Regions from separate parts of the Homo sapiens genome. Here regions 1 and 2 are each linked to region 3. The links come from fine-mapping of genetic effects on plasma protein levels. A gene starts in region 3. Each other region holds a variant in brackets. All regions are shown on one strand. Distances are from middle to middle. Region 1 overlaps KDR (kinase insert domain receptor). Region 2 overlaps KDR (kinase insert domain receptor). Region 3 holds the start of KDR (kinase insert domain receptor).

Region 1 (2,998 bases), 17 kb before region 3:
GAAGTCAAAAGTTATACCTTGATTTTTTTTTTTTTTTTTTTTTTGAGAAGGAGTTTCACTCTTGTTGCCCAGGCTGGGGTACAATGGCACGATCTTGGCTCACTGCAACCTCCACCTCCTGGGTTCAAGCAATTCTCCTGCCTCAGCCTCCTGAGTAGCTGGGATTACAAGCTCCCACCACCACACCAGGCTAATTTTTTGGATTTTTAGTAGAGATGGGGTTCCACCATGTTGACCAGGCTGGTTTCGAACTCCTGATCTCAGGTGATCCACCCACCTCAGACTCCCAAAGTGTTGGGATTACAGGCGTGAGCCACCGCGCCCGGCCTATACATGGATTTTTGACTGCAGAGGAGGGAAAGTTAGGGGAACTCCCCTGAGTTCCCCCAATCCCTGAGTTGCTCACAGGTCAACTGTATATTGCTAAATGTTTCCCCAGTTTGCAAAGCTCATGCTTATTCAAGTAGGCCTCTCAGCCTTGCAATAAAATGAAAATTTAAAAACTACCTTAGCTAATACTATTTATCATAGTAACAATCCTAATAGCAGCAATAACTATAATAAGTAATACTAAATGAACTCTTACTGTATATCAGCACATCTCATCTTTAAAGTTGAGGTTTGAACCCAAGTTCCTGACTACAAAGCTATGCTCTTGACCTCTAGGTCATGTGGCCTCCCTAACAAGAAAAACTAGAAACTATCTTCTGAATGAACAAAATAGGAATCACTAAGTGACCTAAATTTATTTAAATTATCTCACTTGTCAAGGCACAGAATAATTTCCAAGACCATAGCTTACCATGGACCCTGACAAATGTGCTGTTCTTCTTGGTCATCAGCCCACTGGATGCTGCACAGGTGTACAATCCTTGGTCACTCCGGGTTA[C/T]ACCATCTATAGTTAAGGTGCTCAAAAATTTCTTCATCTCACTCCCAGACTGGGTTTTTAGGTCTCGGTTTACAAGTTTCTTATGCTGATGCTGAAAAAAAGAGTTGACTGAACTTCCAAAGCACAGCATATAACATTACCCAATAACTTCTAGTAACACACAGAATTAAATCTGGGCTTTGGTAAACATTATTTAATGCTAAAAACAGGGACACCAGAACTTTTAACCTCATGCAGACAACAAATATATTTTGTTTCAGGAGAAATAAATGGAACCAACTGAATTAGGATTTTTAAAACCTCACGTGGTGAAAGTGAGATGGATATAAACTGCAGAAACACAAGTAAATGTGACCACTGTTTAAGGAGCAGTGTATCTCATGCCACCTCTTAAAGAGAAATTCCCTTAAAAGGAATGTAGATCAAAAACTTTGGAGAACAGAGAAATGACATAATGTGGAAAGATGTAATCACCTAGAGAAAACTAATATTCATAGCCTGGCTATTGCAGAATAGGACAAAATTCCTGGTATTTCACCTTTTGGTGGGTGCTATCTGTTCTGCAATTCCCTTAAATTGTGTGTGTGTGTATGTGTGTGTGAGTGGGTGTGTATGTGTGTGTGTTTAAGGCTCTTACATTTTATCTGGCCAAAGAGGCCCCTATCTCTCAAGCAAACTTCACTGGGGCTTATTATCTAAGTATTTGGAGGTCTGGCTTTGAATCATTAGCGTTACCTTCGAAGAAGGGTATTCCCAGTTGAAGTCAATCCCCACATTTAGTTCAGTTCTTGCTGTACAATTTAAGACAAGCTTTTCTCCAACAGATAGTTCAATTCCATGAGACGGACTCAGAACCACATCATAAATCCTATACCCTAGAGCAAGTAAATTGAAAAAACAGAACATGAGAGAGCAAATAAGCCTATAACTTTGCACAGATTTATTTTTTAAAGTAATGCAACTTTAAAACATGCCACATTGTTTTTCCCTGCAGGCCTCACCAATACTTGGTAGCTCCCAGGAAAATGGCCAACAGAGGTTTACAAAGCACTACCTTCACAGATCTCAAAGATGTTGTAACCCAGTGGACAGAAAAGTAGTAAACTTTCAGTGGTCAGTAGCCCTAGGCCAGTAGGGCCAGCTTTAGCAAATTGCTGAAGTTTCCATAAAATAGTCATAATTGAAATAATTGATAGCAAGCAATGCTCTGAACATTGAATTCTTCATAAAATGTGCTCGAGTAATACCATTCGCTTTCATCCTTTTTTTAAAAAGTTTTCTTTTTCTTCCTTAATCTTGGCAAGAAAAGAGACAACCTCAATTGCACATGGGTTTATTTGGTAGAGAAGAGCAGATGAATTGCCCAACACCATATCCTGAGTTCCTATACTTTTCAATATCCTTCTTCACTCTATGTTGTTATCTCCAAGATCTTAATACAAGGATATGTTATTAATGATATGGAAAGGAAATGTCCTCTTACCTACAACGACAACTATGTACATAATAGACTGGTAACTTTCATCATTAATTTTTGCTTCACAGAAGACCATGCCAGCATAGCTGATCATGTAGCTGGGAATAGTAAAGCCCTTCTTGCTGTCCCAGGAAATTCTGTTACCATCAGGAACAAATCTCTTTTCTGGGTATCTCTGGGTAATAAAAAGACATATCAAATATTTAATCCAGTACCAAAAATGAGAGCCATGTACAATGATCACTGAAGAATTCATCTTATTTTTAAGAATACTAATTAGTTTTATTCATTGCATTTGACCCTTCCTAAAGGATCCTTAAAACTCATTGTGAATATTATAAACAGGTTACCCATCTTAATATTAGCTTAAAATTATAAAAACTTAAGAGACGATTGGAGGAGATGCAACTTACTGCACAAAGTGACACGTTGAGATTTGAAATGGACCCGAGACATGGAATCACCACAGTTTTGTTTTTGTTCTCAGTAATGTACACGACTCCATGTTGGTCACTAACAGAAGCAATAAATGGAGATCTGTAATCTAGAAGAAAATTTAGTTTTATTAATGAGTTAATAGTATTTACTAGAAAAGTTGGTCATTTTTCAGGTTCCTAAACTCTAACCAGACA
Region 2 (12,205 bases), 28 kb before region 3:
TCTTGAGTTCAGACATGAGAGCTCGATGCTCACTGTGTGTTGCTCCTTCTACAAATACAGTACAAAGAGGGAAATCATAGGTATGGACATTTCCTTCAATAATTGGGGTCCCTCCCTCCCTGCATGCCACTATACAACTTACCCTCCGGGGTAACACAGCTGTGACCTAGTTTACAGACCACATGCATTTCCTCAAAAGTGAAGTGTAAATTCTATTTTCTAATTTGAAATAAAATTCATATTTTAAGTGAGCCAGAAAGTTTGATATTTAAAGGAACCCATTGTGAAACCTTTTGCAAAGCGGAGAATACATCTGCAGTGGAATCATGCCCAGATTCTCTTCTTCTGCAAAACTGGATTTTTGCATTTCAGGTTCACTATGATTCTGAGGGTCTGATCATTTCAGCACTTCCTCATAAGGAAGCAACACCATGTATTAAATATCTTCACGTGTTAGGGGCTATACCGAATGTTCCAGCCAATCTGTGCCGATCTGTGCAGGCGAATTAAGGCCAGCTGGAAAGACCAGTTGGCACATGAGGCTGATGGCACTAAGACTATGTGTTTGATCCTGTATGGACTGCTACACTTCCCACTAATTCACAGGCATGGTCCACATCTAAGGCTCTGATGAGCCACCTCAAAATTACACACTCCCTTGGCCACAAGAGAAAAAAGGCAGATGGAGAAAGATAGCTTTGAAATGCACAAAACCTATTGGCAAAGGGTCATTGGCACTGCCTTCATCAATGAAAGAACATCACAATTGAAGAAAGAAGCTTTACTGTCTAACCTCCTAAAATGAAAATGGCCAGACCAGAATTCCGTTACTATTAGAATTAACAATTATTTATAAAGCTTTTAATTTAAAAAATATAACCCATTATATTTTTTTCTAACACAACCATTCTTGTTTTGCAAATTATCTTTTACATATGAACATCTTTTACATATTCCAATTCTGGAGAACATGCTATTTTTGTATTTCACTATCTTCCTTTCCATGTCTCTAGATGGTCTATAATTATCTGATTCCACAATATATTAAGAAACAATTTTAATATAACCACAGTCCTTTTTCCCTGTACCCAGAACCACTAAGTACAACTGTGTTGGCTGAGCCCTGCACGAGGGTAACCAGGCAAGAAGGTGAAAGCCATTCCCAACTTTGCTTGCCAGACCATGCATCCTGGCATAAAGCTACAAAGGAGGATCCTTTTTCCAATTTGCACAAGGGCATTATTTAGGCTGACTGCATGTGTGGCTAGTAGGCCCACATAAGCACAAAGCTACTGATACAAGCCTTGCAACATATTTAAAGACTAGATAAAACAGAAAGATAGATCACCACATAATTTTGCTTTTACCTTTCAACATTTTGACTGCTACTGTCCTGCAAGTTGCTGTCTTGTCAATTCCAAAGGCATCTGCTTCAATCACTTGGCCAAAGGCACCACGGCCAAGAGGCTTACCTAGAGTCAACAACAACAGCAACAAGAAAACAGACTTGGATTACTATACAACCAAAGTGATACGCAGAGACATCAACTAGATAGGGTGACCATACATCCCAATTTAACATGGATAGTCCAGTTTACTCCTTTGTCCTGGCTTAATTATTTAATAACTCCCCCTTCACTCTCCAAATGTCCTGCTTTGGATGATTACATAGGGACCCTACCTCTAAGTGGCTATATGAATGATTATACAAATTCAAGAAATGGAATTAATATTTCTAAACCAGAATCCAACATCTGAATACACCACATTTGTCATCATTCTAATGGAGGAAGAGATGGCCTGGTAAACACAATATCAAATTAATAGCAATTGAAAATGCACCTAGCTTCAGCCGGTCTCTGGGGAATTCCCATTTGCTGGCATCATAAGGCAGTCGTTCACAATGTTCATCCAATGGGAGTTCATCTGGATCCATGACGATGGACAAGTAGCCTGTCTTCAGTTCCCCTCCATTGGCCTGGAAAGCATCAATCCTTCCAGTCATAAACACACTGTTGTTTGGCTGTTGTTTTGTGTGCTTGTTATTGCTGTTTATTGGAGCCTCATTCCTGTCTCATTTTCCAATAAAACTCATGGAGTTTGAGAGTGGTCCTATTATAACCCTGCTTCTAGTTTCCCTTGTCCCCCAAAGGAGCTCAGAATTAAGGTTTTAAAGCTTAATTACACTAGACAGTCCAAGCCCTTTTCCTCTCTAGTGGCTTCTATCAATTAAATCCCTGAGATCCAGCCAAAAGAAAGTGGGCAGGAACGTTATTGTATTGAAATAAAAATGTGCCCATTGAGCCAATAACAATGGGAAGAAACAACTCAAAGAACCCCAGTCAGTTTTCATTAATCATGAAAACCAATGTGCATGGGCAGAAGGGAAATTATTTTTTTACCCGCTTAACGGTCCGTAGGATGATGACAAGAAGTAGCCAGAAGAACATGGCAATCACCGCCGTGCCTACTAGAATAATGATTTCCAAGTTCGTCTTTTCCTGGGCACCTGGAAAGACACAATTGAATGAGTATCAACAGTTGGAAACTTATACTTTTTGTTTGTAAGATGACAAATTTTAGCACTAAAGCAAAATCCCAAGCTTACCAACTTGGAAAAATCCTAGAGGACAACAGTTACACACCCGTAACTTGAATGGAGTCTACAGAATTCTTTTTTTGAATTTAATTTATTTATTTATTTATTTATTTATTTATTTATTTATTTATTTATTTTTAGAGACAGGGTTTCTTTCTATGTTCCAGGCTGGAGTACCATGACACAATCATAGCTTATTGCAGCCTCCAATTCCTAGGCTCAAGCGATTCTCCCCCCTCAGCCTCCCGAGTAGCTGGGACTACAGGTGCATACCACCAAGCCCAGCTAATTTTTCTTTTATTTTCTGTAGAGACAGGGTCTCACTACATTGCCCAGGCTAGTCTCGAACTCCTGGCCTCTAGCCATCCCCCCTGCCTTGGCCTCCCAAAGTGCAGGGATTACAGGCATAAGCCACCACACCTGGCCTACAGAATTGTTAATGGAAAATTTAAAGCTTGCAAAACATTGCTCATGTAAACTTACAACAATAAAATTCTTAAGTAATTAAGCATAGAAGTAGTAATGTCTTAAAAGCCAAACATAGAAAGTGTTTAGAGGAAGAGCAGTCTTTGATGGAAAGAAAACAGATCATTCTCTACAGAGAAAAAAAAATATTTCTATTTGAGGAAAACAAAAGTCTTCTTTTAAACTGATAGTCAATATTTTGATCTGTGCAGAGTTTGCAAAAGGATCACATAAGAAACCAAGTAGGGAAATAAACAAAATTTTTTGACCTGAGAGTTACTAATGACCATGTATCTACTATGCACTCATCACTTTAAATATGCCATTCCACTTAATCTCCTCAACAACTCTCAGTTTTCAGATGAAGAAACAGAAGACCAGAGAGCTTAAGCTACTTGACTGAGGGCACACAGCTAGTCAGTGGTTCAGTCAAGAGATAAAGAGGCCTGTCCAACATGAACTAACCATTACATACACTACCCCATCCCTTGTGGCAGGAGTCTGAGTGAGGAGAAGAGGAAGAGCCAAGATGAGCACATCACGCATGGCCTGGTAATGGGAGTTTCAAATCACTCATGAAAGGAAAGAGAAGAGGAAACTAGAAGTCAGCAAGCAAAGCTGCAGATGCTCAGGGCTTCAGAGGACAGCTCTGAGTGGAAGAAACAAAATACAGAAACAGGCTTTCCACTAAGAGTGATTAGCAAAGAGATGATAAGGAAGCAGTCATCACTTGGGGCCTCCCATCAGAAGAGTGCAAGGAGAATCAAACCGGGCCACAAGCTGTGCGGATGGCCCACTACGGCCTCAAGAGAGAAGAAGACAAGTAAGAAACTGGTTTGCAAAATAAGTAACAAATTGGTTTGCAAAATAAAAGTTAACTTAACCATTGAGAGACAAGCACAATTATGCTTGGAGTAAATTTTGTTTCTCTGGTGGTCCTAGGGAAGTAATTCTCTATTTATACACACAGATTTAAAAGTCCAGTTGAACATAGAGGATAAAAAGTTCAAAGAGTCTGTTTTCTATGTGTTTGTATATTAATATTCTCGCATAACATTTGGGAACCCAGCAGGAGTATTAAATATCTAGCTCTGCCTTTCTTAGCATTCACTCCAGGTAAGAAGTAACTATAATCTCTGTGCCAGTGTTACCTAGTTAGGCATCTGTAACCAGCTGCAGGCCACCAACAAGAGGTAATGCAGAGCATCAGAGACAATCTAGACGTCATTCTGCGGATTTGCCCTAAAACATGAATCACTTTGGAAATGACAAAACCGCCATGGTCTTTGAAATCTTTATTTGCAAGTGTAGTTTATGAAATGCTAATAAGCTTATACATTTGAAAATATGTCAACATATCTCGATGCAATACTTGGCATCATAGATTTGGCAGAGTAAAGGGACCAAAATCTAGACTTTGAGAGACAAGTTAGGATGAGTTCATAGAAATCCATCGATCCCTTCTATCACCATACTTCTTTCTTACCCTTGCATACCATTCTTTTACCCCACAACACAGTTTTATTCTTTCCCTGGTGGGCTATAAAAAAAAAAGCCATAGGAATATACTTCTTAAGATAAAATATTCTGCCACAAATTACTTTTCCTAGCTAAGAAAATGACAGATTTCACATCACTTCTGCATACACACGTATTGAGATAAAAACCAAAAATTTTCCATGTCAGAAGAGCAATGGTCTATTGTTCACAAGTGAATCTTAATTATCTCTAGTCCAATTAAAACTCGGAATCCTTGTGACTATCTGGATAGCATTGACTGCCATGATTAGGCAGCAATTCTAATGTTTTTCCAAATAAATATAAAGGCATCATTTCTATAAGTTAATCAAGCCATTCAAACAAAGACAGAATCAGGGAGAAGAGGCTATTCATCCTGCCTGATTAAGAATTTTTCCACAATAAGAACTGCAGGAATAGGAAATGTGATGCAAGCAGAATTATAACAACATTAATTATGTTTGCTGGTTAAAAGAATACATACTCACTGAGAAAATTTACAAAGTACAAAGAATATTAAAAATCATCTGTCGTTGCCCTATTCAAAGTGAATGTGTGTCTATAAGATACAAACTAATCTTCAAAAACCACAGGATGTATCTATGACTTCCCACTGACCTTCTTTTTTTCTTTTAAGTTCCGGGATACATGTGCAGAATGCTCAGGTTTGTTACACAGGTAAACATGTGCCATGGTGATTTGCTGCACCTATTAATCCATCTCCTAGGTATTAAGCCCAGCATGCATTAGCTATTTTTCCTGATGCTCTCCTTCTCCCCAACCCACAGTAGGCCCCAGTGTGTGTTGTTCCCTTCCCTGTGTCTATGTGTTCACATTGTTCAGCTCCCACTTATAAGTGAGAATGTGTGGCGTTTGGTTTTCTGTTCCTGTGTTAGTTTGCTGAGGATAATGGCTTCCAGCTCCATCCATGCAGCTGCAAAGGACATGATCAGATTCCTTTTTACGGCTGCATAGCATTCCATGGTGTATATGTACCACATTTTTTTTTATCCCACTGACCTTCTATTATGAAAAATGCCTCCACTTTTGCACAGCCAAGAACACTGCATGCCTGGCAGGTGTAGAGGCCTTCGTCCTCCTTCCTCACTCTGCGGATAGTGAGGTTCCGGTTCCCATCCTTCAATACAATGCCTAACAGAGGAAGAAAACGATCATTCTCATTTATGATGATGTAGTCTGTGAAGTTTTTCAGGGAAATTTAGAAAATATAAATGCTGCCCTTCATCTTGTTCTATTATCTAACTCTGTAGAGTCACATGGGATCTACTGCTGACTAATCTCCTATATGGCTTTCATGAAAATTCAACAGGGCCCCATACTCCAATTCTAAGTCTGTGAAATGAGCCAGGTCATGGACACCAATACTGCTTTTTTTCTACATTACATCAAGAAATAATATGGCTTTTTAGATAACATCCCTGGGAAAGTTCTGCAACCCAAGAGTGATAGCCAAATTCTATTTACCTGAGTCTTCTACAAGGGTCTCATTATCTTTAAACCACATGATCTGTGGAGGGGGATTCCCAGATGCCGTGCATGAGACTTCGATGCTTTCCCCAATACTTGTCGTCTGATTCTCCAGGTTTCCTGTGATCGTGGGTGCCACACGCTCTAGACACACAAAAAGAAAATCACAGAACATGGAATTATAACTTTTGAAATGGTTCTGGTATCAGCAAACTTTTAAACAGTTTAAATTTAGTAAAAAGGAACTTGTTGATATATTAACTTCTGGGAAAATACACTGGTCACTGGGTAAAGTTAAATGAAACAAGTCAGTCAGGACACTGCAAACAGATTAATGGCTTTTAACATTCATATTAGTGATACTAGCTGGTAATCCCATCACAAAAGAAAGGTTCAGGGTCACCTTTATGGATTTTTCCTCTAATTAGACACAGCCTCCCCAGGTGAAAACTTCCCTCCCATGAAGATTCTAGTCAATAATACCCTAGAATCCCTTCAAATTTCTCTTGGAAGTGCCAAATTTTAGTATCATTCAACCAATAATGCCTTACATTTATTTGGCAATTCTTATAAAACTTGTTTACACAATTTGTGTTCCTCACTAGTGATCTTATGTAATGAGCAGAATAGGACTGTTAGCGTTATCTCACAGATGAAATAAATGATGTTCAGCGACATTAAACCACTTGTCCATGTCCCTGCAACTAAGTAAACAGTTGAACTGTTTACAGAATCTGGTGAGGCTAAAAGACCAGTTCAGTGCTATTTCCACTAAAACACAAACAAAACAACAATACCCTAAGGGAAGTCTTGGATTTAAAGAAAATGAAGCCCATGAGTATTTGTTTAAGTGTACAAGAACACTTTAGATTTATTCTTTCTTCAGATCATCAAAGTGCTGTGGAAATATCTTGTCCCAACCAACTGAACATCAAAAGGAATCATGCTGAAAAAATCCACGTCAACACTTAGCAAAATGAGATTACCTCAACAGCGTACTACATTGAAGTCTAAGCAAATGTACTGGATTCTAGCCTATTTCTAAGAATAGGTTTTAGGAAAACAAGTTAGGAGTCCTTAGGGAAGCAAAGCAGCTAACTGCGAGCACATATTTTCTGGGCACAGCTAGGCCAGGAGCCTACTTCACATCTCTTTCTCAATTCTGCCATAACCTTGAAGCCAGACAAGCCAACAGAAAATCCATGTGATCTATGTGGTGTGACTTGAAGGATGCTGGGGATGACTTGACCCCAAAGTATCTCTTATTATGACACCTGAGTCTTAAAACTAGCGAACTTTATGCTAGTGTCTGTCAGAAGGTGCCTCTTCAAATACGCCAAGGCCTCTGATGAAGACGTTACCCTCTAAAACTGTGGTATAGATGAATTTACTTGGGCAATTTCCTTCCTAACAGTAAAAAAAAAACAGAGGGCACATATATCCTAGGAATTGGAAAGGGACACCACAAGAGGAGAAAATGGAGAGAAGTGGCACAAAGAGACGCTCCCCAAATTTGCCTGATTTTCCCACAGACAAAGCCATGGCTGCCCAGCTTTTGCACAAGGCATGAGGTTAGACAAGGGGTAGACAGTGCCTCTATGGAGGAATTTACAGAGCTATCTGCTCACTGAAGTGATCGTCCCATTGACCTTGGGCTACGCTGGATCATGTGGGATGACCCAGAGGTACAGACAGTGAATGTAGCTTCCTTCCCATGGAGTCTTCTAGGTCTTAAACGCAGCCCATCATCCCACTCTTCATGCAGCAGGTGCCTTATTGAGCAGTTAGTATATGCTGCTATGCTCTATGACTAGAGCTATAGCAGGGAGCAAAACAGAGAACAATTCCTGTTCTCATGGACACAGAGACCTCACTGTGCTGTGACTTCCCAGTGGTTGCCTATGTTCTCCTCCTTTCCTTCATGTTTACCACTGTGAATTTCTGACACTCTCCTAGCTCATAGCAGGCATTCCACAAATATTTGTCTATTTAAATAAATGGATGCCCAAGATAAGGCAGAAGTTTCCCTGGTTCAAGCTAATATCCCTTGCATATACTAGTGAATTACTCCATCATCAGGTTTTGTTATTTTCTCCTTTCGATATATCATTTCATTATTATTAGCTTCTTTCTTCCTCAAGGACTTTCGGTGAAGAAGTGTGCACCAGTTTACAACATAATCTCCTAGAGGACAGTAATCTTTGCATAGCACCTGAATTGCACTACATTTAAGGCATTCCAACTGCCTCTGCACAATGATCCAGAATTGTCTCCCTACCTAGGACTGTGAGCTGCCTGACCACGCAATGTCTTTTCTTGGTCTTCCTGTCTTGAGCAAGGCAGACATAGTCTCCTTGGTCCTGCAAGGATGCATTCTTAAGCTCCATGATCAAAATGTCATTTGTGCTATTAGAGAACATGGTGGCATTCAATTTCCAAAGAGTATCCAAGTTCTTGCAAACAGGTGTGGGCAACTCTCCCACATGGATTGGCAGAGGCTGTGGGCCAAGCTTGTACCATGTGAGGTTCTCAAACGTAGATCTGTCTGCAGTGCACCACAAAGACACGCTCTCCTGCTCAGTGGGCTGCATGTCAGGTTGCAAAGTAATTTCAGGACCCCCTAAAATGAAGAGGCCATAGTTATTGAATGGTGATTTAACTTGGTACAGCTCACTATCATCTTGCTGCTTTCAGACTACTACAAAGTACCAAAAGAAATGAAGCTCTATCCGTTCCAGGTGATGTACTACAACTTGACAAACAAACTAGACAATTCAGGTCCCAAAATATCTTATTTGGCCAAACACATTACTTGAAAATGTAAACGAATTCCTCAGATATTTACCACATCTCCACTATGAGCTCTACGCAATGTTTAATATATTAAAAATCCAAAGCAAAATCTCTAATTCTAACAGAATTTTAAAATTAGGTCTTCATTAACACTAACACTCAATGATATGAAAGCTACATTTATGCCAATGAATTAGCCCTGGCTATAATATTCCATTCAGCACAATCAGCTAAAGCTTATCCATAAAACTAAGATGCACAGGCAAAATCGGCAGCATTGGGAGGGCACTGCTCCTATGTCCTTCTGATTGCCTCCATAAAGCCCACCCTCATCAACTGTTCCACAGCAAGCCCACCAATATGTACTGAAGCTCAATAAGCCAGGCACTGTGCCAGACTCTGAAGACTGAGATGTAAATACCACACAGAGCTTGTGGTTTAAAGCATCTGTGAAACCATTCTCTCTCCAGTGTAGTTAGACGCACTGACTTCACATAAGCCCAGGAGATACCTGAGAAGTTGTAATTTATGAATGAAAGCATCAATGATCAATCCAAGTCCTCTTTCCTAAATGCCATGCCACTCACATGAATGGCAAAAACAACAGGGAATTACATAGCTTAGTACCCACTGTGTGAGTGATCCAACCCAAACCTCCAGAGAAGAGTACTTACTGGTCACGTGGAAGGAGATCACCCTCTCTCCTCTCCCGACTTTGTTGACCGCTTCACATTTGTACAAAGCTGACACATTTGCCGCTTGGATAACAAGGGTACTTACAGTCTGTGCGGGGAAAAAACAAATCCCAGGCCATAAACAACGCGGCTGTTTGTGCACAAGCACTCAGTCCAGCAGTCTCCACAATCACTCCAACCTGCCTATGCCATTCCCACTTCTGCAGCGGTTGGACACGCTCAAATTTATGCAATTGCAGGTTGAGTATCCCTTACTCAAAACGCTTGGGACCAAAAGTGGTTTGGATTTTGGATTTTTTTTTTTGGATTTTGGAATATTTGCATTGTATACTTACCAGTTGAGCATCCCTAATCTGAAAATCCAAAATGCTCCAACGAGCGTTTCCTTTGAGCACCATGTCGGCACTCAAAAAGGTTCAGAATCTGGAGCATTTTGGATTTGGGGTTTTTAGGTTTGGGATATTTACTCAATTTGTATAATTATGCTGCTGTGGAGCTCACACATTATATAAAAAGGGCTTTGGAAGCCATGAAACTAATGATGTGTTTTAATATGATATGATACACATTTTTTCATTCTCATGTTTATAAAATCAGAATCACCCTACACAGATGCATAGATTTAATGTCATAGATGTTTTTATTTTTCTCTGATAAGCTATTAATAAGTTAATGGTACTGCTAAAAGTCAATGGTATTTTCAAAGTGACTTAATACGCTCTATTTAATCATCCAGACTATTTGATTATTAATCTCCAATATGCCTCACATATTATTGTACCATCCTTCCATTAAAGAGAGAGAGATTTTCAAATTTTAAAACTTCAAACTCACTTTGTTTTTTCCTTCAATTAGAGCAAATTGATTTTTATTAACTTCAATTTTATTTCCTCCCTGGAAGTCCTCCACACTTCTCCATTCTTCAC[A/G]AGGGTATGGGTTTGTCACTGAGACAGCTTGGCTATAAGAAAGAGATAACAGCGCATATTATGATTTAATTTTTCTTTAATTAGAGTCAAGAGTAAGGAAAAGATTCAGACTTTGGTTATTCTGTTCTTAGAAATAACTTCCAACGCAGCCTACCATGGTACAAGACTTGGCGCCAATTAAAAATAGGCATTGACAATGAAGGAAAAGGTTCTAGGTAGATTCATTCAGGATACAGGAGGGAAGCAGCTATTCTGGGAATAAACCTTCATTCATAAATTGGATCGACAAGACAATTCAAGTTAATTTAGTTCAAAGGAAGGCAAGGAAACTTAGAAGCCACTGGGCTCCTTAAAGTAATTTCTCTGGGACCATGGTCTCTGTGAAGGAAATGATCAGCAGCTGAGGAAGAAGCTCATAGTGGCCATTTCAAAAACAACAACAGGAAGTGGACTGCTTAGGGTGGTGGTGGGTTGGCTGCTGTTGTTGTGTTTTTCCCTAAGGATGTCTGGACTTGTGTCAGAGCATGATAAGCTGGGCCTGAGACCCTGAGGACTGGGGCTGGGTCTATCACTGCCTCTCATCTATCAGCATTTCCTCTGAGAGATGGATCTTCACACACACAAGAAGGAGGGATGTGGTATTCACCAGCCGATTGGTATCGGGAGAAAAACCAAAGACTGGCAATTAGCAAACTGAGCAAATAGCCTGTGTTTGGAGAAGTGTACCTCACGGCTAACCTAACAAGGCTGAGCTTAGCTAACCCCAAAGGAGGATACTCCAAGCAAAGACATCCCCTAAAATGTAAGACACAGAGAAAGATGGATGGAGATTCAGGCTACCTCTTGAGAGAAAACTTTTTTTGGTTTAGGCTTCTCCATTTAGGATGGAGTCATATCATAGCTCAGCTGTAAGAAATGCAAGATGGCAGGAAAGCAAAGAGCATGTGGCCTTACTCACCTGGGCTCGTTGGCGCACTCTTCCTCCAACTGCCAATACCAGTGGATGTGATGCGGGGGAGGAATGGCATAGACCGTACATGTCAGCGTTTGAGTGGTGCCGTACTGGTAGGAATCCACAGGAGAGATTAGAGATTTCTCACCAATCTGGGGTGGGACTGAAGATGGGAAAAACAACTTTTGAATTGTCAGTCAGCTTTGAAGAATGGGAAATAGAGGATTTTAGCAACTAAAGCTGACTTTCTTTAAGCATATGATTTTGCTTCCACTTTCTTTTTCGAAGAACACCTAGATGTGGAAACAAGAGACCTGAGTTCTAGTGATACTCATAAAAATAACAACTAGCCAGGCATGGGGGCTTATGCCTGTAATCTCAGTATTTTGGGACGCCAAGGTAGGTGGATCGCTTAAGCCCAGGAGATCAAGACCAGCCTGGGCCACATGGTGAGACCCCATCTCTACCAAAAAAAAAAAAAAGGAATAAAGTAACGAAATAAAATAAAAATGACAATAAGCTAATAATAATAATAAACTAACAAGCTGAATGACTTTATGGAAGTGTTGAAATCCTGTGCCTCTCATCTGTATTACAGAGATAGTTCTCTCTGTCCTCTCAAGTTTAGGAGATCAGGGAAAGGCTACAGAAAACAGCTGAAATAGCACAGTAAATACATTTATTATGTGCCAAGCATTGTTTGAAGTGCTTTGCATGAATTCATTCACTTAATCCTCACAACCACTATTACTGTCCACAGCTTTATACG
Region 3 (12,000 bases):
TACACCAAGGACCACAGCGCTTTGAAAGATGTGCAATGCTTTACGCAGGACAGTTGGCTGTTACTTGGAGACCCTTGGGGAAGCTGTCAAAGCCCCCAGGACAAGTCCCTATTCCCCCCCTTCTTCGCTCTGCAAGGAGAGCGGCGTCCTGCACCAAGGAAGGAAAAAAAGTTTCTCTCCGCTCCAGACCCCACTTCACACAGTGGTGTGCAAGTGTGTTCGAGCATGAAGACAACAACGGGCCGGGTCCCGCAAAGAGGCAGAACCGAGTGTACCGTCCGATCCGGGAGACCCGGCCTGAGATTCCGGCAAGGTTTTCTTCCCCGGGCCCGGACTAGGATGTTGCGCGCAGCCAGACAACTTTTCACCGCCTGTTCTCGCCTGCGGAGGCACCTCCTGCCTGCCAACCCCAGGCGCCTTCCCACCCCAGCCTCCCAAGAGCCTGAGGGTGTGTCGGCATCTCAGGACATGCTCCAGCCGAGGTCCCTGTCGCAAACCAGAGTCCTAGAAAAGGAACTGGGCTAGAGCACAGGCGACCACAGACTCGCTGGGTAATCTTGGGCCAGTCTCTGAGCCTCAGTTTCCCCACTGGTAAATGAAAGATCGCAAAATGTCAAGTCCTGTCCAACTCTCCAGCTCTACGATTCCGAGTTAGATCTGGCTTTCAGGTCCTCTCCGCCCTCACCCGACCTGTCTGCCTTCCTCCTCCAGAGTGGGCTCCTTACCCACAGAGGCGGCCCGGGTCTCCACGCAGAGCCACAGGGCGACGGCCAGCAGCACCTTGCTCTGCATCCTGCACCTCGAGCCGGGCGAAATGCCCAGAACTCGGGAGCCGGTTCTTTCTCCCAGCGCCTGTCTAGAGAAGGAGGCGCGGAGGTGGAACTCGCGGCACCCCGCAGCGCAGGACAGTTGAGCGCACAGGGCTAGGGAGCCCGGGCGCCGACCGCGGCTGCAGGGGCGTCTGCGGGTGCCGGTAGGAGAGGATATCCAGGCTGCCAGACGGACTTTCTGCGGCGCGCAAGTGATGCCCGGCGCAGGCAGAGGAAACGCAGCGACCACACATTGACCGCTCTCCCGGGGTCCCGGGACTCAGTGCAGGGTGGGAGCTGGTGCCGAAACTCTAGAGCGCGGAGGCGGGGCCATGCGGGGCGGGGCCGGAGCGGAGGAGGGGCTCTCCCGTGCGGCCAGCCCCGCCCCTCACCCGGGTACCCGGCGGCGATCTCCAGCTCCCCAAGCCCATTTACATCTCCCCATTTCCCCACACAACTGGACTGCGCTGGGCCCCAAGTCGCCCAGGAGAGAACATCCCAGAGCAACAACTTTGTTTCTGGTGTAAATAAAAAGTACTCGGTAACGGGCGCTGAGCAACTCCAAGATTTAATCGCTTGCCGGTCCCCGAAATTTGGGGAGCATCACCAGGAGCGCTGCGAAGAGCAGCGCTCCCTCACCAGGCGCGTCAAAGTGCAGGACCCTCTTCGCCATCGCGCGCGTCTGAAGTGGCCGAGAATCTGCAGCAGTTTGGAGCCACAAGGGAGAAGCGGATACTCAGCCAAGTATGCCGGGTCGCAAGCTGGCAGCGACTCCTGCCAGTAGTTTTGGTTTTTGTATAAGGGTATTTTGTTTGGCCAGTATAATTGTAGTTTAAAAAGCTGAATCTGGTTGCTCTTAATCAGAAAACGCACTTGCCCAGTTCGCCAACATTCCCGCTATTTCCCAAAATATTTGGCGGCTCCAAGTTTGAAGTGACCTGCCTAGCCCCAAGAAGGCTTTTGTCCATCGTGCTCCCCAACGAAGAGCCCTAGTGAAAGTTTGGCCATGCCCCTTTTCAGAGCAGAGCTTCCAGCCAAGATATCCTTAGTCCCAGGGGAAGGAGGCCAGCTGCCAGCGTGCTTCAGTGGAGGAGCAATGAAGCAAAAGCACCTAGGACACTCTGTGACCAAATTGCACAACTGTCTCCACGTGTGTGGACTTCTTGTGGCAGCTGTTTGGAGGGGAACTCCAATTCCTTCCTGACCACATTCGTTCCTTCTGGTTTTCTGTCCATATCTCCCCACACCTGGGGAGTGACATCAAATGTCCCCTAACTTCATTAAATATGAATCTTCCAGATGCCTATGTCTTTTACCTCCCAGAGGTGCTTTTTAATGACAACCTAAAGGACCATTCTTCACCAAGATAAACACACAGAATTATTATATCTACACCTAATTCAAACTAGATTGATTGTATACAATTAATGTAACCTGTTACTTATCTTCATCTGTTTTTAAATATTTACTGTATTCACGCTTTTACTTTTCCAAGTTGACAGGTGAAATATTTTAATGCTGAAATATAATGAATGTATATGGCAAAAAAAAATTTTGGAAAAACACAAAAAGGCTTAGAGTGAAAAGACTTTTCTTTTGGCAGAGGCATTTTTATGTTTCCTTTTTTTTCCAAGCAGATTCTTAAACACAAGTATGTAGACATGTCACCCTTCTCTTCCCACAATTGCTTGGTATAAATGCTATTTGAGCCTTGGCTTTTTTCCCTTTAAATTTGATTTATTTATTTGAGACAAGGTCTCACTATGTTGCCCAGGCTGGTCTCCAATGCCTGGACTCAGTCCATCCTCCTGCCTCAGTCTCCCAAAGTGCTGGGATTACAAGCACGAGCCACCCTGCCCAGCCTTCACTTTATAATATACACTGGAGATTCGTTCTACATCAACCTTTAAAGCTCCATCTTTTATTTATTTATTTATTTATTTATTTATTTATTTATTTTTATATAGAGGCAGGGTCTCACTATGTTGCCTAAGCTGGCTGCGAACAAAGCTCCATCCTTCCATCTTTTCAATGTTGGCATAGTGCTCTACTATATAGATGTACTCATATTTATCTGGGAGGTATTTATTTGGGGAGGGGAGAGAATCTTTAAAGAAACTCCTCTCTTCCTGCTAGTAAACTCAGCAAATAAAATAGGATGGACTCTGGCAAAGTTGGATAAAGGGGTGGGAGATGGAACCTGGTTTGGAGAGGGCAGTTTTTCTCCATCCCCATCACCAAACAATTCCCTATCAGCCTTATTTACAGTTCATGACACTTCCTCTTCCATGTCTCATTTAAGAAGATAGTGTCTCCTCTGAATGCAAACCAGAACCTGCAGGCCCGTGGTAATAGCCCCCTTTAGAAGTCTTGGAGGAAATGATGCGTCTTTGATGGCCGCAAGACCAGAATTTGGCAGAGTCTCAATGAAATCAGTCTACCACATTCCCTCCCACACAGCACTTAGAAGTGCCTTAGGTTCACAAAAAAAATGGCAAAGTCTGTTAAAAAAAAAAAAGATAGAAAAGAAAGAAAGAAAGGCTGTTCCATGTGCAGCACCCTCTCGTTATCTGGCATTGCAAAGGAGTGACTTTTGTGAGTTAACCCAACAGTAAGGCACCTAGCAAAGTGCCCCAAATGTGTTGAGTGTTCCATAGATGCTATTCAGATGCCACAGCAGAGTAGTAGCTAAGTGCACAGACTCTGGATTTTATTCCCAGATCTACCGCTTATGATCTGTGTGATCTTTACCAACTTACAAGTAACTTATCTATGAAACACAAAAAAAATTATAATAGTACCTTCTTCATAGGGTTCTTACAAGAATTAAAGGAGTTACTGCATGTAAGGCACTTGGAGTAGGCCCCAACACAGCTAGTAAAGATCTTGGACATAGAAAGCACCAGATACACATTAAGAAACATTCTGCAAAGGTTGCTTATACTACAATGCATGGGCTTCTTCATGCTGCTGAGATCTAAACTGCTAAGCAGGCTCATTCATTCAACAGTTTTTGAGCACCTACTATATGCTAGGCATTGAACCAGGAACTGGGGTTACGATGGTGAAAATAATGTCAAGATGAGCTTAAATGAGGAATCATTGTAATAGCCTCACCCAAGACAAATTTAATTTAATCTTTAAGCACTTCTTGTCTCCAGCTACTTTTCTGGGCTTGTACATACAGAATATACATTGTTCATACTCAAAGCACACTGCATAAATTACTCTCCATGATCTCCAAATTTGGTTACATTACCAACAGTATTTTGGACTCCATGTCTTAACAAGTTATATGAAGATTTGTCAAAGGTTAATAACTGTGGAAGTTCAATTGCTTCAAAGAGAATAAAATACCCAGGAATCCAACTTACAGGGGATGTGAAGGACCTCTTCAAGAAGAACTACAAACCATTGCTCAATGAAATAAAAGAGGACACAAACAAATGGAAGAACATTCCATGTTCATGGATAGGAAGAATCAATATCGTGAAAATGGCCATACTGCCCAAGGTAATTTGTAGATTCAATACCATCCCCATCAAGCTACCAATGACTTTCTTCACAGAATTGGAAAAAACTACTTTAAAGTTCATATGGAACCAAAAAAGAGCCTGAATTGCCAAGACAAATCTAAGCCAAAAGAACAAAGCTGGAGGCATCATGCTACCTGACTTCAAACTATACTACAAGGCTACAGTAACCAAAACAGCATGGTACTGGTACCAAAACAGAGATATAGACCAATGGAACAGAACAGAACCCTCAGAAATAATACCACACATCTACAACCATCTGATCTTCAACAAACCTGACAGAAACAAGCAATGGGGAAAGGATTCCCTATTTAATAAATGGTGCTGGGAAAACTGGCTAGCCATATGTAGAAAGCTGAAACTGGATCCCTTCCTTACACCTTATACAAAAATTAATTCAAGATGGATTAAAGACTTAAATGTCAGACCTAAAACCATAAAAACCCTAGAAGAAAACCTAGGCAATACCATTCAGGACATAGGCATGGGCAAGGACTTCATGACTAAAACACCAAAAGCAATGGCAACAAAAGCCAAAATTGACAAATGGGATCTCATTAAACTAAAGAGCTTCTGCACAGCAAAAGAAACTACCATCAGAGTGAACAGACAACCTACAGAATGGGAGAAAATTTTTGCAATCTACTCATCTGACAAAGGGCTAATATCCAGAATCTGCAAAGAACTCAAACAAATTTACAAGAAAAAAACAAACAATCGCATCAAAAAGTGGGCAAAGGACATGAACAGACACTTCTCAAAAGAAGACATTTATGCAGCCAACAGACACATGAGAAAATGCTCATCATCACTGGTCATCAGAGAAATGCAAATCAAAACCACAATGAGATAGCATCTCACACCAGTTAGAATGGCAATCATTAAAAAGTCAGGAAACAACAGGTGCTAGAGAGCATGTGGAGAAATAGGAACACTTTCACACTGTTGGTGGGACTGTAAACTAGTTCAACCATTGTGGAAGACAGTGTGGCAATTCCTCAGGGATCTAAACTAGAAATACCATTTGACCCAGCCATCCCATTACTGGGTATATACCCAAAGGATTATAAATCATGCTGCTATAAAGACACATGCACATGTATGTTTATTGCGGCACTATTCACAATAGCAAAGACTTGGAACCAACCCAAATATCCATCAATGATAGACTGGATTAAGAAAATGTGGCACATATACACCATGGAATACTATGCAGCCATAAAAAAGGATGAGTTCATGTCTTTTGTAGGGACATGGATGAAGCTGGAAACCATCATTCTCAGCAAACTATCGCAAGGACAAAAAACCAAACACCACATGTTCTCACTCATAGGTGGGAACTGAACAATGAGAACACATGGACACAGGAAGGGGAACATCACACTCCTGGGCCTGTTGTGGGGTGGGGGGAGGGGGGAGGGATAGCAGTAGGGGATATACCTAATGTAAATGACGAGTTAATGGGTACAGCACACCAACATGGCACATATATACATATGTAACAAACCTGCACATTAAACCTAGAACTTAAAGTATAATTTTAAAAAAATTAAAAAAAATAACTGTGGAAGTTGAACAGTGGTACTTAAAGATTCATTTGACTATTCTCTCTACTTTTACGTGTTTGAAAGTTTCCATGATTAAAAAAAAAAAAATCTGTTTTAAATGACTGTAATCAAAGGGATGCCCAGGCCAATACAACACTAACTTTTCCATTGTCTTTTCCTTGATTTGGTGAAAATAAGGATTTGGAATGTCCTTGAGCATTATCTTTTAATCATTTCAGGCAGCAGCTTCATCATTTGTCAATGAAAATAATAATTCTTACCTACCTTAAGGACTGTTACGAGACTCAGATGAGATCATCTCATGGAAGTGCTCTATAAAGTGTAAAATGGTGATGGTGGTAATAAGGATTCAATAGATGTTTAATTTTCTTCCTTAAAGTACTTGTTACCAAGGCCTTTCATCAGGTGTCTTCCACACATACCTTCATCGCCTAAGAACATCAGCTGTTCAAAAATATTTCCTGGCCAGGTATGGTGGCTCATGCCTGTAATCCCAGCAGTTTAGGAGGCTGAGGCAGGAGGATTGCTTGATGCCAGGAGGCTGAGGCTGCAGTGAGCTATGATTGCACCACAGCATTCCACCCTGGGTGACAGAGTGACACACTGACTAAAAAAAAAGATAGTATTTTCTATATTTCTTTGAGATATAGATATAGATATAGAGAAGAGATACATGGAGACATACATGCATAATAGAAAATTTTGCAGAAAATATCTAGAAGGGTACACACCAAAAAAATACCTACCTTGGGGAAATGATTGAGGCACAGAGGCAGAGGGATGAGAACATGTACTTTTTGCTTCATATATTTCTATAATTTTTTTCAAACCAAGAAAGTATTACTTTTACAAATAAAAAATATTATAAAAGACATCAACTCTCTTTTCTAGGGGCTGTTATATTTTTAAATATGACCATTTATTGATTACATGTTTGCATTGACAACTTTGTCATGTTTACTGTATTTTTCTTTCCATGTTCATTTATTTTCAACTTACCAGAGCCTATGACTACCTCACCAGATGTTGGCTCAGTTTCACAGCCCATCCATACTTACAACTATTGCGACTTGGGAGATCATGAGCATACCCTTTGTTTCTCATTATCTACCTTCTTTAAACATCTAAGTTTATTTTACTCCTTGTGAGATTTATTCATTTAACTTAAGCTATATTTGTATGTTCAAGAAAAAGAAGGCTATGTCACCACAAAGCCAGGCCTGCCTTGAATGTGTCCAACAGTGTTCAATTTTATTCACAAAGCCTTATATTCTAGTAAATATAAAGCAAACTCTCCATCCTTTTAGTGAAAGAGATTAAAGAGAACTTGATTACTTGCTCCCTGCAAAGGAAAAAAATCTCAGTTACTATAAACACGTATAACTATGTTCCAGTCCCAAACTCTCCCGTATAATTTCTTGGAATATCTCACATGAGAATAGATACAATAATTTTTAAATGTGTAAAATATGCAAAGAATTTAAATAACCAACTGAAAGTCCACACAGCACCAGAGAAGGGTGCTAAAAAATATTAAGAGCTAACACTTTTTGAGCACATCATTTGAGCAGGCTCTGTTCTGAGTACTTTATTTCTCATTTCATCCTCATAACATCCCATGAGGTGGCAAGCACTATTAGTATTCCTTAGAAAGAAAAGAAGTAAAGAGAAAAAATATTTATTCTTAATTTAAGTAAATGTCCCTTTGCCTTCCTAAAAGTCTTGCCCAAAAAAAAAGTTGTTATATCTCTTTGTAAATAATCAATGAAGTTTTTTCATCAATAATTAGGAATATGGTAAAAAAAAAAAACAGGGCATTCTTTGCTTTTTTCAATAACAATAAAAAGAAGGGGTAGATTTTTGGAGCAGTTACTATGTGTCAGGTATTTTCCTTGGATTATCTTATTTAATGCACATAATAACTCAATAGAAAAGATACTATAATTATTCCCATTTAAGGGAGATGGGAAAATGAGGTTTAGAAAGTTTTTTTTTTTTTTTTTTTTTTTTTTTTTTTTTGAGACGGAGTCTCGCTCTGTCGCCCAGGCCGGACTGCGGACTGCAGTGGCGCAATCTCGGCTCACTGCAAGCTCCGCTTCCCGGGTTCACGCCATTCTCCTGCCTCAGCCTCCCGAGTAGCTGGGACTACAGGCGCCCGCCACCGCGCCCGGCTAATTTTTTGTATTTTTAGTAGAGACGGGGTTTCACCTTGTTAGCCAGGATGGTCTCGATCTCCTGACCTCATGATCCACCCGCCTCGGCCTCCCAAAGTGCTGGGATTACAGGCGTGAGCCACCGCGCCCGGCCGAGGTTTAGAAAGTTTAAGTAACTTTTCCAATGTCCCATAACTGTAAGTGGTGGAATCAGGACTTAAAAGCAGAGCAGTATTAAGCACCCAAAACAGACCCCTCCTAGCACATACAAATAGCTTTTTGTTTTTGGTTTTTTGTTTTTTTGAGGACTAATCTCATTCAAGGCATGAGGCTAAGTGAATTGATGCCACTGACTTCCTCTGCCTCTCCATAACAATAGCTTCCATTTTCCTAGATGCATGAAAAGCTAAGTGACTTAGAAGAGGCACTCTGAGATGGCTGACCAAGGAAGAATGCAAAGCAGGTAATTAGATCTTGCCCTCCCCACCTGCAGAATCCCAGCCGCATTGAATATTTACCTTCCACCCAACCCCCAAACCACAGATCTTCTCTTCAAAAAAAAAAACAACAAAAAAAAAAACAAAAAAAAGGAGCAGTTGCTTCTATACAAATAATCACTTGCGCATTTGGGGCATTTCTTTTCTACCATGAATTTTTGTCATTTGTCCTCCTGGACATACCTTCCATACCCAGTGCAAATATCTGTCCCAAGTGATATGTTTTGTTTTTTTATTCAGCTGTCTGCTTCAATTCAGACTCTTCTAGGAGAAATAGGCAAAGGTAAATCTTACCTGAGCAAGTAGTTAAGTTTGGAAGGATAGTTGGTAAGGTCTAATAAAAACGGTTAAGGACATGATGATGGTGCCTATTAATAAAATCTATTTTGTATACTATAGACTTATTGTGTTATGTCTAATTAAATAAAGCTATTGTAAAGATACTTGGGTTAATGTTATATGTGCTAGCTATATAAAATGTACTTTATATGATTATTCTTAAATTCAAATTTAGATAATAGTCATCCATTTAATAAATATATCCAGTTATGCTGAATTTATACTTGATCATTGACAAATTAATGTGGACTATTTTGTTATTCACAGAACTAGGAAATTATTTTCCTTTTCCTGTACGCACATAGCACTTATGCAACATCTGATAGCATAATCACATATTTATTCAAATATTTCTCCCTCAAATCAGGGATTAGGTCACATTGATTTTGTATTCTCCGTGCCTAACACAGTCCCTGTGCATATTCACCTCTAAACACAATAATGATGTCCAAGTTATTTTTGTTATTTCCATTTCTGCTGCTATTTGTTCCTCCTTTGCTTTTTATTTTTCCAGAATCACATGCCTCTTGACTATTCATTGCAAATGTCTTTACAGAGAGCAACTTGTGGGAATAAATGGAACCATACAATGTCAACATAGACACAACGGAGTGAAAGAGTTAGTTCTTAATTTATTAAGCAGTGGGGATTGAAGATTTTTGTTTTTGATTTTGAGTACAATGAAGAAAAAGAAATAAAGCATTTACAAGATTTGCATGTACTATACAAGAAACGTGTGATTGAAATGTTGCATCTGTGTCATTTGCAGACTCGTAACCATTTTCCAGTGAATTAATACCATCCTCCCCCTTTAAGCCTATCAAGTTTTCAAAGAACTGAATAGTGCAAAAATATACTTTTGGTTCCCAGAGAAGTGCTACAGATTACCATTCCCATATAAGAAGAATGTATACACTTCCAGGTTAGTTGAATTAGTTTGCAATACTGTTCACATTTTTAGAGACTAAAAATAATGTTTCCTGGTAATGCCACTTCACCAGTGTTGAGAGCAAGTCAATGACAGCAGAAAAGTTTTATGTTCTTTGTATATAAATTTAGTCTCCAGAGTTTCCAAAACATTGGTGAATAGTCCCTGGAGGCATAAATAAAATTTTTTTCTTTGAGCAGTGTTTCTGAACGTTCATTTCTAATATATCACTGCCTTGCTTCACTTAATTAAAAAAAAATCTCCGCAAGGAATGCCTCACAAAGAGAGAAATTTCAAAATAAAATGAAAAATACAACTTTAGATCTAATTGATAATCATCCAATAATTGGTCAGGCTGGTCATAGGCAGATGAAAGGCTGTAAGGGAGTCATTTCATGCATCTGATCACATAATATAAATAAAAGATCCAGCTGTGGAGAAAATGATTCTAGTAACAAAGCACCACATCAAAAATATTCCACATTAAAATGGTCTTTGGATATATAGAAAAATGCTTCTATTTCCTTATCCTAAGAAAACTTGACCTTGCTGCTCCCTGAAGCTACTTAGTAGTCTAGTACTTTGACCTTTCCTTCAAACGAGTTCTTGAAAGATAAAAGGACATCCCTCACCTTCTCTCCTCATGTACAATAACTTCTTACTCTTGACTCTGCCCAGCATCTCCACAACAGACATCCCATTGTCCACCCTCTTCTTGAACTTCCGTCTTTGTTGAAGCTTGAAACATTCATGGGTACACTCCTACCTACCAGCCAATGCCCTTCACTGGCTGACATTCCTTTGCTCAACCCTAAACATAGGGATCGCCAAATCCATTCTTGGTCACCATCCCTTGTACTCTTCCATGACTTTCTCAGGAATTGTATTTCCTCTTTTGCCTTTGACTATCTTCCTTATGGAGAAAACTTGAAAAATTGTGCTCTCCAACTCTGATTTTCTACCCTAGCTCCAGCCTCTAATCTCTAATTCTTCCTGGACATCTCTGTGTATGTTCCACCAATTTCTTAAATTCAAAGTGCCAAAAACTGAATTCTTTGTCTGTTTATACCCACCCTGCCTCCTTCAGCCTTCTTAAGCTCGAAGTCCCTCTAGATGCTTATACTACATTCCATGATATCCCCCTGCCTTTTCTTTTCCTCTCAAATCCAATTTTGTCTACATTCTTTACTTCCCTCATATCCATCTCCTATTTTCATTCATCAGACTGCCCTGACTCGTGACCAGTTTGCCTTTTTCCTGGAATATTCCAGTCCACTCATCACTCTGCTGCCAAAGTTATCTTCCTAAAACACAAAGTTCATCTGTCCTTCACCTTGGACAGTTGACCTCTGTACATAGCATAAAGCCCCAAATCCCAAGCCTTGTATTTAAGGGTTTTGTTCTTTGCTGCTTCCTATTTATACAACTTACCTCCCGGTATACCGTGGACATACTCTTAGTCCAACTTTCTAGATTTCAGTGGCCACCTCCAGAAAATGCATTACACTTTTTTGTCTCTTGCTTACTGTATGCCTTGAATGTGCTTTATTCCAATATCTGCCCATACGTAGTTGGCCCCTCTTTAAAAAGAGGCCCCAGGAAGTCTCTGCAATCCCTACTCATTCCCATCTCCCCATCTGACTTACTCTCTCCATGCCTGCAAGAGTAAGGATTCCTTAAGTTGTAAGAAACAGGAAAACCAACTCAATTTGGCCTGAATGTATAGGATCATGTTGTTGTAAGTTATGGGCTGGCTTCAGACAGTTTTTTCCAGAGTCTCATTGTGTCATCCTGCTGTTTTTCTCTGTGATTTTCTCAATTCTGCCTTCAGGCTGTCCTCATAATAGAAAAAAAAAACATGACTACACATTCTCACCCCACACTGTCCACAGAAAGACAGTGTCTCTTGAGAAATAAAAGGGAAGATCCTTTGATCCTTTGACCTAAGCACATCTTAAATCTCATTGCCTTATCCCTAAACCAATTACCAGAAGCAGGAAGGATCTGATAGCCTATGTCAGAGTCCACCTTTGCAATTAAGAATAGGCTCAATAACACCAAACTACATAATTAAAATAGAAAAGGGACTATTACTCAAAAAATTCTAAATATTTTTCTAGGAAGCAGGGGGAAATGGATGTTAAAGAGACAGCTAATCAATGACAATTAT

The links. PIP is the chance, under the fine-mapping model, that this variant and not a neighbour inherited with it causes the effect. Protein levels are from the aptamer-based SomaScan assay of Sun 2018.
Region 1: its variant is fine-mapped to the plasma level of the KDR protein (Sun 2018, PIP 0.95). The variant lies in the coding sequence of KDR. If it changes the protein, the assay may bind it differently, which can mimic a change of level.
Region 2: its variant is fine-mapped to the plasma level of the KDR protein (Sun 2018, PIP 0.95). The variant lies in the coding sequence of KDR. If it changes the protein, the assay may bind it differently, which can mimic a change of level.

The regions. Positions count from the first base shown.
Region 1 is chr4:55,112,502-55,115,499 of GRCh38, forward strand. It overlaps KDR (kinase insert domain receptor), which reads right to left. Exons shown (of 30, transcript NM_002253.4): 4 at 2,780-2,910; 5 at 2,373-2,541; 6 at 1,625-1,764; 7 at 803-980. Among named protein-coding and RNA genes, the nearest start is that of KDR, 12 kb to the right of the region's middle. The variant C/T (reference allele first, on the strand shown) is at 890.
Region 2 is chr4:55,096,295-55,108,499 of GRCh38, forward strand. It overlaps KDR (kinase insert domain receptor), which reads right to left. Exons shown (of 30, transcript NM_002253.4): 10 at 11,443-11,599; 11 at 10,393-10,516; 12 at 9,538-9,646; 13 at 8,349-8,690; 14 at 6,068-6,214; 15 at 5,603-5,734; 16 at 2,403-2,509; 17 at 1,843-1,978; 18 at 1,368-1,472; 19 at 1-48. Among named protein-coding and RNA genes, the nearest start is that of KDR, 23 kb to the right of the region's middle. The variant A/G (reference allele first, on the strand shown) is at 10,485.
Region 3 is chr4:55,124,502-55,136,501 of GRCh38, forward strand. KDR (kinase insert domain receptor) reads right to left here and starts at 1,094. Exons shown (of 30, transcript NM_002253.4): 1 at 726-1,094. The coding sequence starts at 792. RefSeq lists an enhancer at 8,161-8,774.